Regions from separate parts of the Homo sapiens genome. Here region 2 is linked to region 1. Evidence: fine-mapped expression QTL. Tissue or cell type: whole blood. Region 1 holds a variant in brackets; the other region holds the start of a gene. All regions are shown on one strand. Distances are from middle to middle.

What was found. PIP is the estimated chance that this variant, and not a neighbour inherited with it, causes the effect.
Region 2: SLC7A8 starts here. The variant in region 1 is fine-mapped to the expression of SLC7A8 in whole blood (TOPMed, PIP 0.97).

What each region holds. Positions count from the first base shown.
Region 1 is chr14:23,161,834-23,164,455 of GRCh38, forward strand. The region is part of intron 3 of SLC7A8 (solute carrier family 7 member 8); the gene reads right to left. Among named protein-coding and RNA genes, the nearest start is that of SLC7A8, 21 kb to the right of the region's middle. The variant A/G (reference allele first, on the strand shown) is at 1,464.
Region 2 is chr14:23,182,048-23,184,654 of GRCh38, forward strand. SLC7A8 (solute carrier family 7 member 8) reads right to left here and starts at 1,613. Exons shown (of 11, transcript NM_012244.4): 1 at 717-1,613. The coding sequence starts at 867.

The DNA of each region.
Region 1 (2,622 bases):
GGAGAATCGCTTGAACCCGGGAGGCGGAGGTTGCAGTGAGCCAAGATGGCGCCACTACACTCCAGCCTGGGTGACAGAGTGAGACTCCATCTAAAAAAAAAAAAAAAAAAAGCATCTACCAAGCCTTCCTGACAGCTTGGTTCTTGTTTTACTGAATACCGTATGAGAGGATTGGATGCTTATCTGGTATGGCCTGCCATAAAATTCAAAAAAAGAAGAGAGGATTTGAGGGGCCTATAGAAGTGGATTAAAAAAAAAAAGTATTCAACAAACCGGAAAACAGAACCTCTGTACACAGACTCAAAGCAGCTGGGAGTGTCAGGTATAAGGAAAGGGAGAGAGGAAGTTTGTTATAGCTAATGCATGTACGTGTGCACCCTGCCGGGCAGAGGGATGGCAGCTCCACATGGCCTTCACAGCTAGGAGGAAAGGGACACTGCAGCGGGACAGGTGTGGAGCTGGTTTCCATTTCCCCTAAAGGAAATAAGGAAGACTACGCTTGGGAATAAGAAGGATTTAAGATTTTTCTGCTTATGAAGGTAGACAAATATTTGAACCCATATTTCAAGGACATTGAAAATTCCTGTCTTTAGAGGACAAGATTGGCTACTGTTAAGTTGGAGATAATTTCCTTGCAGTTCTGCTGAGAAGGCAGAGGCCAAACTTAGATAAGCTTTATTGAATCTTTGACTACAGGAATAGAGGAGGGGGGTCTTGTCATTTTTGTCATCAGCCAGTTTCTAAATTTCTCCTTGGCTTGGTCCTTGCAGTGTCTAGGTGAGGGGAAGGCTGTGGAGAGGACTGTGCAACATGTCATTCTGGAGCAGGGCTACAGGCAGGTGGCGTTCTTATCTCCTAGGAGAGTTTGGACCTTTCTGGTCCGAGGGGACGCCAAAAAGGCTACACTACTTTGGAGGGTCTTTGTGCAAGAGGTCAAACCCTTGGCAGATTTGGGGAATGCAAAGAAAGCCATGGGGTCTGGCTGCCTGGGAACTTCTTCAACCTGTGGCCTGGCTCCTCTCCTAGGGTGCAAACTGAACAGCCTCGGGGGTTCTTGATTTCTAGTAGAAGGGTAAGGGTGGCCTCTTGTCTGAGACACTTTAGCAGCATCAGCAGGAAAAAGGAAGCTGTCTGTGTGCAAAGAAACACCAAAACAGCAGTAGCTAGCACTTCTGTGGCCTTGCCTCCCACCCTCCCATTAGCTGATCTGATGGCAGAAACAGCACTCTTCCTGCATTCCCACGCCCTCGCTCTTCCCCGCTCCCCATCTCAACTCTGGATCCAGCTAGGATGCAAGGATAAAGTGGCCCCAGCATCTTGCCCACCCCCAGTGACTGATATGACTGGGGTGCTGGGTGTCTAACACTGTGCTGAGGGTGTCCCCTTCCTTCTCTCTTGCAGTCCTTGTGACCACGACCTCTTGAGGCAGCTAGGATTACACTCCCCATCTCACAGTAGGGTGG[A/G]CGAGTGATTTTGCCCAGCACTCACCACTGCAGTTAGAAATGGTGGACTGGAGATGCAGGCGCAGGCAGCCTGGTTTTGGAGCCTGCATTCCTCTGCCTCCAGATCTGTGAGCAGGCCTGATCAAACACAAGGAATACACCCCCAAACAAATGTCTTGGCCCCATATTGCAAATGGCCTGGGTGGTGGAGGTCTGTCCCAGGGTTGACCAGCACTGCCAAAGAGGGCTCACTTGCCAAGGAGACCGCCTCTTGGGTCCCAGCTGCCTGCCCTGTAAGAGGCTACTGAGGTGGGTGAGTGATCTCTTCCTCCCCCATCCCGTAACAGGACAGAAGGAAAAGTGTCAGGACCTGGGAAAGCATATGGCCAGGATGATCACTGCCCTCAGCTAAGTGTATGTGTGTTAGAAGCTATGGGAAGGCAGGGACCCAGTGAACCCTAGAGGTGGAGCCCCTGAAACATATCTAAGTATTTACTTTAGAAATTAGTTTTTGATTAAAGATGTAAAATACCCCAATCCATTGAGATGACTAATATCAGAGATAAAGCTTTGAGACTTCCTAGAAATACGGCTCTGCAGAACTTCTCTAGGAAGCCTCTCTAACCTATTCCAGCCCACAGAGATCTTTTCCCCTTCTCTGAATTTTATTGTTATTGTTGTTTTTAATTTCTTTTTTTTTTTTAGAGACAGGATCTCACTATGTTGCCCAGGCTGGAGTGCAGTGGCTATTCATAGGTGTAATCATAGCTCACTGTGGCCCAGAACTCCCAGGGTCAATCGACCCTCCTACCTCAGCCTCCCAGGTAGCTGGAACTACAGGTGTACACCACCATGCCTAGCTCCCTTCTCTGAATTTTTACTGCAATTGAATCCTAACCACAGTATCTGTCTATATGGCTTTTCTCCTAGTTAGAAAACTCATCAAGGGCAGGGATCATGGACAAACCCTTCTCCAAGAGAGTTAAAAGAGTGTGACTTGACAAGTTGAGGTAGAAGTAGATGTGGACCTACTGCCAAGAAGCCAGAGTAATCTTCCTAGGAGCAGCTGGGAGTAGCCAGCACAGTGCAGTGCACTGGACAGACAAGAAATCAGGAGCCCTTGCACTCCACGTGGCCTGCCTCCCTGGGCAAGTCATTTGCCTGGCTCTCTGTTTCCTTA
Region 2 (2,607 bases), 20 kb after region 1:
TACTCCTGATTCCCTCTGAGAGCTTCACCGGGTCCTCCGTGGCTGTTAAGAAACAGGTGGACCCCACCAGGCAACTGGAGAAACTGCAAACTCTCCACTTACCGAGAGGCACAATCTGTCCCCTCTTTTCTTCCATAACTTCCCCATCTGTGAAATGGGAATAACAGCCCTGTCACAGCTACTTCACACAGTAAAAGTGCTGCATAAGGTGGAAAACGCTAAAATAAAAAGGCAGGGCATTGCTCTTGCTATTTTTAATACCTATCCCATAGTTTCATTTAACATAAAACTGCAAAATAGCTACCAAATATACCTTAAAAGCCCATCCCCAGCCTGGGAATAATAGCTGCATACAAACTTGTTCAGGTCCCTCAGTCCCTCCTTAAACCTATTGAACTAGAACCTCCAAGTGTCGAGACCAGGACCTGTATTTTTAAGGAGTTCCCAGGCAATGCTAATCATCAGCCGGGTTTCTGACCACGATTTGCTCCATTCTATGAACACTGGGCAGAATCTTTGCCTGGTTTGGAGGAAGAGATGTATGATGTATTTCCTATGCCTCTCAAACTTGACCAGTGGAGGTGAGTTACAGCTCAGGTGACTGACAATCCTTTTCTAAGGAATAGGAAGAACAATAATGCTTTCGAAGGGTTAAGATCTCACAGGAGGACCACCAGAGGGGAGAGGAGGGGTCCGCGGGAAGGAATGGAACTCACCTACGATGATACCACAGGCACTGACCAATCCGATCTCTTTCTTCAGGGCTACTCCGCCCCCTCCGGAACCAGCCTCGGGGCTGGCGTCCGACTCGCCCCCACCTGGGTGTTTCTTTTCGGTGTTGTTTCGGTGCCTGGCTCCTTCTTCCATCCTTCTCAGTAGGATTGCAACCTCAAAAGCTGCCTCCCTTTCTAAATGCGTATTCGTGTAAATATATTGGGAGAGAGCTTTGAATTAGAACGTCCTTTTCCGAAATAGGAACCACTGCTACTCTCTAAAAAAGGCAAGCAGATAAAAGAGAACACGAAAAATATTCCTACTCCGCATTCACACTTTCTGGTCACTCGCGTTTACAAACAAGAAAAGTGTTGCTAAAAAAAAAAAAAAAAAAAAAGGCCAGGGGAGACATACATTTAAATATAAAAATAGAACTGTGCCAGCGACTCCGGCTGGAATTCTGCTGAAAGGGATGTGTCTTCAGAAACCAGGATGGTTCTGCTCTGTGCACCAGGCAGTGGCTTATTCAGAAAGTGAGCCTGGATTTCCCTTCACCTCTCCCCCTAATAAAACAGGAGACTGCCTTTACCTCCCCTTAGTTTTTTCTTTTATGATGAAGACAAAAGTAGTTTTCATTAACGGTAGGAAAAAAGAGCAATCCTCAGGTACTTTCTTCTCTTCTAGAAAAACAAACTGTGAACCTGACGGTGTTGCTCTAGATCTGGTTTCCACCTGCTTTGGGTTTCTTTTCCCTTCCCCGTCTTCTGCTTCCGCCTTTCCCAGGTGTCCTCTTCTTTCTCGCTGGTCTTCGTGCCCTTGTTTTCCTCTTTTCGATCCCCGTTCTACTGCACAGCCGGCCCCATCCCTCTGGTTTCGGGAGAGTGGCTTCTCCACACACTAACGTGCTTCTCTTTAGCGAGGGGTTTTATTCGCCCGCCGAGGCTCCGCCCCTGCCTCCTCTGCTCCCCTCCATCCTCAGTCCCGTCTCCTCCCTCCTCTGCAATTTAAGTATTAGCACAAAGCCCCCAAACAGCACTGAGAAAATGGACTAAGTTATTTCTTTTTGCAATCGTCTCTCGCTTTCTCCATCTTTCTCCTTGCAACCAAGTGGAAGTAAACTCCTTCCACGTCAACTGTTCCGGGAGAGCTCATTAGCTAGTATAATGTTACAGGTCATACAGCATCTGTGAGCTTTATAAATCAGGGAACAGTTGTGCCGATACTTTTAATGCCATCAGAAATAAACTAGCCAATGTATTAAAAAATATTTAGGACTGGATCCTGTATTTGAGAATACAGGAGAGAACGTTGAAAGGACATCATCTTCGAGTTTCCTAAAAATAGGGGGAATCGACGGGTGGGGGAGGGAAATGGAAGGAATTAACAATGGGAAAAAGGTTCTTTTAGCGTAATTGTGAGCTACGAAGAGTACAGAGGAAACAAAATCGCCAGGCGCGGTGGCTCACGCCTGTAATCCCAGCGCTTTGGGAGGCTGACAGGGGAGGATCACGTGAGCCCAGGAGTCTGAGACCAGCCTGTGCAACAGAGCGAGACCCCGTCTACTAAAAATTTTAAAATTAGCCGGGTGCAGTGGTGCAGGCCTGTAGTCTTAGCTACTCAGGAGGCTGAGGCTGGAGGATTGCTTGAGCTCAGGAGGTCAAGGCTGCAGTGAGCTATGATGACGCCACTGCACTCCAGCCTGGGAGGTAGAGCAAGACCCTGTCTCAAAAACAAAACAAAACAAAAAGCCAGAAAAACCACATGCACATACAAAAAGATAAAAAACAAAATCACCAGGTAGCCTTGTTGTTCACAGCTCTTATTTAGGACTGGCTGAAACATGAAAAAAAATGACTCAAACCCTGATCCTGCAACTTCTAATATTTTTGCATT